Linked DNA regions of Homo sapiens: region 1 is linked to region 2. Evidence: fine-mapped expression QTL. A gene starts in region 2. The other region holds a variant in brackets. All regions are shown on one strand. Distances are from middle to middle.

Region 1 (4,386 bases), 22 kb after region 2:
ATTTGAATGAATGAAATCATCGAGGGGATGAGTGTTGATAGCAAACAGAAGAGGCCTAAGAACTGAATCCTGAGGTGTCTAGTATTTAGAGGTCATGGAGATGTGGAACCAGCAAAGGAGAATGAGAAGAAGTGACCAGCAAGGTAAGAGGGAAGTCAGGGGAGTGTCGTGTCCTGAAGCCAAGATAAGAAAATGTTCCAAGAAGGAGGCATCTGTGTCCAGTGCTGCTCATGGGTATGATAACAAAGACTAGGGACTGACCATTAGATTTAGCAATGAGGAGGATATTGGTGACTGTCACGGGAGTCATTTCAGTGGAGTTGAGGGGCAGAAGACTGATAGAATTGTGTCTAAGAGAGAACAGGAGGAGAGAGATTGGAGACAGTGAGTAGAGGAACTCTTTTGAGTTTTGCTCTAAAGAAATCAAAGGAATCAGATGATGTCTGGAGCACTGTGTAGTGCCAAGAAAAAATACAGCTTGCTCATATGCTGACGAGAAACAGCCAGGAGGGAAGGGGAAAATGAGGATGCAAGAGAGAGGGGAGAATTGCTGAAGCAATATCCTTCAGGTGGCAAAAGGGATGTGACCTAGTGCATAGGTAGAGAGGCTGGTTTTAGCTGGGAGCATAGACAGTTCATCCATGGAAAAGCAGGGAAGACAGAGACATGGACACAGAAGTGGATAAATGGGTATATCCAAGTGGGAGCTTGGATGTTGTCTTCTGATTGCTTTGTTTTCTCCATGAACTGAGAACCAAGGTCAACAGTGGAAGATAAGGATAGAGAGGGAGACACTAGAGGGCGTGATATAGTTATCCAAGAGAGTGAGTGAACCAGGGGGATGAATGTCATGTGATTGACAAGCGGCACTGAGGGTACCCTTGACGTTTATGATCATAAATTTGGTGATAACTTTCTCCAGCCATGTTGAGCTGCACAGGTGCAGGTGCAGAACAGGTGAGTGGTTGCATAAAACCAGAGTTAGAGGTTTGTCAGTTGAGTAGAAGGAAACATGAGAGGGCAAGAGACTGAAATGTATGTGCAAGGGATATTTATTTTTTAAAAATGGAAGGATTTAAGCTGGGTAAAGAGACGAGTATGATGAGAGTGTGGACATCAATTCTGATGGGGCCAAAGGATTGTTGGAGTTGAGATATGAGACAGGGGTTGAACTGGATGTTAGGTGGATGGAGAATGGGTTGCCTGCAGATGGGATTCAGGGTTGAATTGGTAATGCGTGGCCAGGGAAGGTGGAGACAAGATCGTTGGAGAAAAGATGCTCACGGAATGGAGAAGAGAGTGCATTGGAATAATTATCTGTCTATACTGACATTGAAATAACCAAGAATTATGACAGGGACAAATGTTCAAGGGTGTATATAATGATCCAGGAGTAAAGCTTCATGGAGTGAAGGTAAGTGATCTTGGGGAAGATAAATGGCAGCAACAAGCAGTGGTTACCGTAACTATTTTTTCTCATATTTCTCCATCGTGTAAGCGAACAGCAGTATCCCAGTGATTTCCGTTTCTCTTACTCTGAGTGAGGTTGAGCCCACCAGGGCTATTTAAAGGCTATTTGTGTTTCCTTTACTGTGAACTGTCTGTTCATATCCTGTGCTTATTTTTCTTTTCTCCTTCCTTCCTTCCTTCCTTCTTTCCTTCCTTCCTTCTTTCCTTCTCTCTTTCTCTCTCTCTTTCTTTCTTTCTTTTCTTTCTTTCTTCTTTTTTGACAGGGTCTTGCTCTGTTGCCCAGGCTGGAGTGCAGTGGCGCAATCATAGCTCACTGCACCTCGACCTCCTGGGCTCAAGCCATCCACTCACCTTAGCCTCTGAAGTAGCTGGGACCACAGGCTCACGCCAACAAGCCCAGCTAACTTGTGTATTTTTTGTAGAGATGGGGTTTTGCCATGTTGCCCAGGCTGGTCTCGAGCTCCTGGGCTCCAGGAATTCTTCTGCCTTGGCCTCCCAAAGTGCTGGGATTACAGGCATGAGCCACAACACCCCACCATGTGCTTATTTGTATGTAAATTATTGACTTTTTAAAAAACTGATTTGTAGGAGTGTGTATTAATGAAATTATCCCTTTGTGATGAGTTGTCCATATTTTTTCAAGTCATTTAACTTTGCCTATGGTGAAATTTGCCCAGTTCCTAAATCTTTTACATACTCCGGGTTTTCATTATATTTAGAAAGGCCTTTATCACTCCAATATTATTTTTTAAATGTATCCTGTGGTTGCTTCCAGTATTTAGATGGTTTCATTGTTTACATTTAAATGTTTGATTCATTTGAAAAATATCTTGTTACTATATCCTATATGATACATGCAAAAGAAAAGTAAAACAAAATAAAAATTATAAGGTATAATTAAAAATTATAAGGTATAATAACCAATGTACACCTGTGAACCTACCAACAAACTTAAAATTAGAACATGAGAAATACCATTGAAGCCAGCTCCCCCCAGTCCCCATACCACTG[C/T]CTAACCCTCTCCTACAGGTAAACCAAGTTTTGTGTTTATCATGACCTGGCTTGTTAAAAAAAAATTCATCACAGATTGCATAATCCTAAAAAAAGTGTGTTGGTGTAGTTTAGTTGTGCTTGTGTTTAACTTTATAAAAAAAAATGATACCATGTTGCAGCAACCTTCTGCAATGCTCTTTTTAAATTCAGCATATTTCTAAGATTTATCTATCTTGTTGTATTTAGCTGTAGTTTGTTGTATTTAGCTGTAGTTTGTCATATTTAGTTTTTGCTATTATAAGCAAAGCTGCTATGAGCATTCTTGTTTGTGTCTCTTAATTTGAGTAAGTACAAGAGTTTGTTTAGGATATAAACTAGGTCAGGAATTGTCAGGTCATGGATACGCACATGATCATCTTAACAAGTTGATGTCAACTGTTTTCCAAGGTGGTTTGACTAAGTAACACTCCCACCCACAATACTGAGTTTCTATCGCTCCACATCCTCACCAACACTTAATAATGTCACACTTCTTATCGTTTGCCAATCTGGTGGGTGTACAGGGCATTTTGTGATGGCCTTAATTTGCATTTTCCAGATTACTATTGAAGTTGAACATCTTTTAATTTGTTGGCTTATTTATTTATTTATTTATTTTTGAGACACAGTTGCACTCCGTCGCCCAGGCTGGAGTGCAGTGGCGCAATCTCGGCTCACTGCAACCTCTGCCTCCCTGGTTCAAGTGATTCCTGTGCCTCAGCCTTCCGAGTAGCTGGGATTACAGGCGCACGCCATCACACCCTGTTAATTTTTGTATTTTTAGCAGAGATGGGATTTCGCCATGTTGGCCAGGCTGGTCTCGAACTCCTGACCTCAAGTGGTCTGCCTGCCTTGGCCTCCCGAAGTGCTGGGATTACAGGCATGAGCCACCGCGCCCGGCCTTACTCTGTATTTTACTTTAAAAATCTTGCCAGGCACAATAGCTCATGCCTATAGTCCCAGTTACTCAGAGGTTGAGGTGGGAGGATTGCTTGAGCCTGGAAAATTGAGGGTGCAGTGAGCCATAATCCCATCACTGCACTCCAGCTGGGGAACAGAGTAAGACCCTGTCTTAAAAAAAAAAAAAAAAAAAATCCTTGCCAGGCGCAGTGGCTCACGCCTGTAATCCCAGCACTTTGGGAGGCCGAGGCGGGCAGATCACCGGAGGTCGGGAGTTCGAGACTAGGCTGACCAACACGGAGAAACCCTGTCTCTACTAAAAATACAAAAAAATCAGCCGGGTGTGGTGGTGCATGCCTGTAATCACAGCTACTCGGGAGGCTGAGGCAGGAGAATCGCTTGAACTCAGGAGGCGGAGGTTGTGGTGAGCCGAGATCGTGCCACTGCACTCCAGCCTGGGCGACAAGAGTGAAACTCCGTCTCAAAAAAAAAAAAAAAAATTCTTTTTCTCTGCTGAGGTCATGAAGATATTCTTCTATATTTTCTTCCAAAGGTTTCACAGTTTTCCCTTTCACATTTGTCATCCCTATGGAACTAATTAGGGGTATGGTGTGAATTAAGGAATCAATGTAATTATTTTTTACTTAGGAACTACCAATTATTCCAATACCATTTATTAAATAGCTCATCCTTTCCCACTGAGTTGTAGTACCAGCTATGTCCTATATCAAGTTTTCTGCTATTTGTGGGTCTGTTCCTAGACTCTCTATTTTATTCCTTTGATCTATTTGATAACTCCTATGTAATCATCACTTTTTAAAATCACTATATCTGTATAATACCAATGCAAGGACAAGTGTATAGGGCAAGTCTTCCACCTTCCCTGAACATTCTTCAGTTGAATATTGGATATTTTGGCCTTTTGTGTTTCCATGTAAACACCACACTCCTCTTAGAGTTTTAAGCAATATTACAATGAACCTA
Region 2 (4,386 bases):
AGTCTGAGAGCAGAAGCAGGAAGGCAGGGCTGGAAGGGAGCCAGCACACAAGGGCCCCAGGAGTGGCTTGCTGGGGGCCAGTCAGGCATCCTTGGCAGAGCGTTCCTGTGAACGGTCTCAGACACAGGAGGGGCAGAAATTGAAGAAGGAGGCGAGGAGGAGGGGACAGTTCTTTTAAGAATGGGGAGATCTGAGCAGAGAAAAGAACATATTGAGACACAAACAGGAGATCGGTGGGGTAATCTCAGGAAAGGCAGAAGACAGGACTAAGCAAAAAGGTTCCACATCCATCTCCACAGTGGAAGACCGAGAGAAGAGAACGGGTGAAAAGACAGAAACGAGGAGGAGCATACGCCGCTGATGGTGCCAGCAGGGTTCTGCCAAGATTCCCTGAGTCCTCTCCACTGGGTAAGAGGAAGGGTGTCTGCTGGAAATGAGAGAGCCAGAGGTGGGTCTGAATGTTGGGGAGAGGAGTGGAGCAAGTGTGGAACAGCTCTGGGGGGGCTTCTCACATGTAATGTGTGTACAGGTCTTGGTAAATTGCAGGTTCCGATTCAGCAGGTCCCGGCAGGGCCTAAGAGTCTGGATTCCTCACCAGCTCCCAGGTGATGTCAATGCTGCTGGTCCGGGGACCACACTGTGAGAAGCAAGATTTAGAGAGGCAGATCAGGAGATGGAGAAAGAGACTGGCTTAAGAATTGTCTTAAGGAGAAACCCATGTTTGATAATCCCACCTAGGGTAAAAGCTGAGACCTGAAGGAGTCCTGGTGGGAATGGCAGCCCCCTGTGGGTGATGGGGAGAGGCATAGAGAGAAGGGGTGGTAAAGAGACCAGGAAAGGAGGTGAGAGGGCCTCTGTGATGGCAGGAGAACCAGCAGTGCCCCCAGGACGCCTCATCTGGGCCAATGTGTGACAGAACGCTAACTCACACTTGGAGGCCCCCCAGAAGAGGATGGGAGTGAGTTGGAGCAGGAAGGTGTTATTGCAGGGGTGTCTGAGCGTGAACATGGCAGGCAGGGCAGGTGGCCCCCATGCTGTTCTGCAGGAAAGTGCTGGACTCAGTCTGGGCTTGCTCGAAGCCTGGCCAGGACAACGTGGGGAGAGGGGCAGAAATGTCTCTGCCCCACGGTCAAGGGCCAGACGACTTCTGTGCCAGGAACTAATAAAAAAAAAGGAATGGGATCTGAGACGGGACGCGGCTGGGGAGAAACAGGAGGTGAGCTGGGCTCTGAGCCTACCTGTCCAACTCGCAATCAGAAATCAGGAGGTTCCTGAAAGGCACAGATGGAAACTGAAAATGCTTTAGGCTTAGGTAACCCAGCATCAGGAATCGGGATGGTTGGATGCAGGGACCTCGCCCAGCTTGTCTGGGGCCGCAGCCTACGGCAGGGACGTTTCAGTCCTTAGCTGGGGTGAAAGTGAGGTCAGGGTCGCCGGGGAAATGCGGGAGTACAGTCACGCGGGAGAAAGACGTCAAGAGCGAAAGCTCGGAGGCGTCAAAATGAGCAGCAAGTCCAGGCACAAGGCGTCGGGCGCGGAGAGTACGGCGGGTGCCGGGGGAGGGAGATGAGGCCGCGAAGACGCCGGGGCTTCGTCCGGCGGCGACGGGGAGGCCGCGGAGGTTCCCGAGCGCAGCGGGGCGCGCACCTCCCGCTCGGGCCGGGCTCCCTCGCCGCGCGGCCCCGGATCCTCCCTGCGCGGGTTTCCGTGGCCCCCGCCGGGCTCTTCCGTTCCCTCCCGCGGCCTCGACCAGGCCGCAGCCCCCAGCCCAGGCGACCGACTCGCCAGGGTCCGCCCCGCCGCCGCGGCCCGGGCCCGGCCGCTCCTCCCCCGATGATGTCACGTCCCCGGCCGCCCCTCGGCCGGCCGCGCCGCCCCGCCCCCGCCTCCCCCGGGCCCCCGTCCCCTGGGCCCGCCCGCTCCCGACATCCCTCCTCCCGCCTGCGCTCCCTCCCTTCGGCTACCGCTCCCCCGGGAGCGGCGGCGGCGGCGGCGGCGGCGGCGGGATGGCCCGGGCCCGAGGCCAGGCCCCGGGGAGCGGCGGGCGGCGGCGGCCGCGGCGGGGCGGCGCGGGAACCGGGCCCCGGGGGGAGTCGGCCGGGCTGCTGCTGCTGCTGCTCCAGGTGCTGCCGCCCGGGGCTACGGCAGGGCCGGGACGCCGGGGCACGCGGGGCGCTGGCGCTGGCGGCGGCGGCGTCTGCTGGCCCGGCGCGGCCCCAGCCTTTCCCCGGGACGCGCGGCTGCTGCTGCTCCTGCCGCCGCTGCCGCCACTGTCGCCGCCGCCGCCGAGCTCCGCGCCCGCAGCCTCCGCCTCCCGGATGGTAATCAGCGCCCCGCGCTGGCGCCGCGGGCGGGCGGGCGGGCGGGAGGTGGGGGCGGCGAGGGGGAAAGGGCGGGCGGCCCCGCGCCCCCGCCTTGCCCGAGGCAGCTCCCGGGGCGCTCGGGCCCCCCCTCCGACGACCGCGGCCCCGGGCAGCCGCCAGAGCGCGCCTCTGGGGCGCCTCCGCGCGGACCGGGTGCGGGCTCCGCTCCCCGCCCTCCCCGCCCCGCTCGCAGTCCGCCCGCCAGCGCTCAGGCCGCGGGGGAATCCCTCCATCTCCCCGCCCAGCGCCCCAGGAGGGGAGGGGACAGCGCCGGCGCCCGCGGACCCGCTTTCTCCGAGGGAGCGCCCAAGAGGCGAGCGCGCACTGAGCCACCCGGACTCGGCGCTGCGCTGCTGGAGGCGCCTGGTGCCGTCGGGTCGGGCTGAGCTAGACGCCCGCAGCCTCAGCGGGACCGGATCCGGGGCGGCGGGGGCGCTCACTCACCGCGCGCCCTCATGTTCCCTGCGCAGGACGCTCTGCCCCGCAGCGGGCTGAACCTGAAGGAGGAGCCGCTGCTGCCCGCCGGCCTGGGCTCAGTGCGCTCCTGGATGCAGGGCGCGGGCATCCTGGACGCCAGCACCGCGGCGCAGAGGTAAGCGCTCGGACCGGACCCGGTGCGCTCGGGTTGGACGGCTGCGCGCCGCCTCAGCTCAGCTTGCTGGAGCTGCTGGAGCCAGGGGCGGAAGGAGCCCTAACTCTGGACGGTCCCGGCGAGCTCCCCGGCCCACCCCGTCCGGAGTGCCTGTGCTGCCTCCTGAGGCTGTGGGGCGGGCTGGGGCGGGGCTTCTGCCTCCACTCCGGGCTGCCCCGGTAGATTTCTGACGGCCGCTCGCGGGTGCGGCGGTGAACGCCACCCCAGCCGGGCTGTCTATGGCTCTGAGAGAAGAGGCAGAGCTCCCAGCCATGACCCACAGCCACCGGCCGTCTAGGAACGTCCAGCCCCTCCTTCCTGGGCAGTCCCAGTGACTCTCCTTGTCCAATTCCGCAGCTCTCTGTCAGGAAAGGCACGAAACCCAGCCCCCTTTTTCCTTTCCCACGCCCCTCAGAGTTGGCGGATGGGGGTGTGCAGAGCCAGAGAAGCGGCTGGGGGCTGGACGGTGGCGAAGAGATGAGGTGGGCAGTCGGCCTGGCTGGACTGATTGGCCTGGGAACTGGGCAGGGCCCCTGCCTTTCCCTCGGGTGTTTTTCTGGTAGGTCCTTTGGAAGGCAGAGAGTCCCTGGGAACCCAGCACCCGCGCCGGTCTCCTCTGACTCCTTTGCAGGGGTCTGGGAGTCTCAGTAGGGGGTTGACTCCAGGATTTGAAAGCGAACTTTAAAAGTTTATTGACCTGCCCCCAAAGCCCCTGCACCCCCTGGCTTTTTGCACCTTCAGCTGTGACCATGGAGGGAGGCATTTAGGTATCCTATGGGGAGTCACAGTGGTTAGGATTAGGGAGGTGCCAGCTCTGCTGACAGCTGGGACAGGGTGGGCACTTGGCTTCCCAGAAGTCTGAGCTGTTGCAGCAGCCCGAAGGGATTCTGAATGGGGGGCTTAATGCAGACCGGGCCTGACACAGGAGCCCACATTCACACTCCGCAGGACGCCTCAACCTCACCGTGTAACAGACACACACCGCGCTTCATGTGCAAACTGAAGCCGTTTCTGCACGCCGGTCCTTTCCTGGCTGTCGGGAGGGAACGCTGGGGGGCTCTGGAGCTGATCTCTTACGGAAGAGAAAGGGTCTTGTGGATGAATTAATTTCCAAAACTTTTACAAGGGATATAGCTATATTCTAGAAAAATTGGAAAATAAAAAATTTAGTCCCTCCTCTGTAATACAACTACTGTCAACATTTTAGTGTATTTCCTTCCTATTTTTCTTCCCATTAACTTGTGTTTTCCTGTGCTATGCTTACAATTCCACCTCCTGCCTATTCTTCTGTTGGTTCTGGCTTTTTTTTTTTTCAACTTGAGAAGGTTAGTTTCTTAACATGGCCCCCTCTTTGGCCCCACCACCTGCTGTGTGGCGAGAGCTCTTTGTAAG

What was found. PIP is the estimated chance that this variant, and not a neighbour inherited with it, causes the effect.
Region 1: its variant is the best candidate, but not a certain one, in a credible set for the expression of EBF4 in whole blood (INTERVAL, PIP 0.71).

The regions. Positions count from the first base shown.
Region 1 is chr20:2,712,645-2,717,030 of GRCh38, forward strand. All of the region lies in intron 6 of EBF4 (EBF family member 4), which reads left to right. Among named protein-coding and RNA genes, the nearest start is that of EBF4, 22 kb to the left of the region's middle. The variant C/T (reference allele first, on the strand shown) is at 2,482.
Region 2 is chr20:2,690,828-2,695,213 of GRCh38, forward strand. It overlaps EBF4 (EBF family member 4), which reads left to right and starts at 1,953. Exons shown (of 17, transcript NM_001395167.1): 1 at 1,953-2,955. The coding sequence starts at 2,819. It overlaps LOC105372507 (a long non-coding RNA gene), which reads right to left and starts at 1,793. Exons shown (of 3, transcript XR_937210.3): 1 at 1,239-1,793; 2 at 513-637. RefSeq lists an enhancer at 3,124-4,108.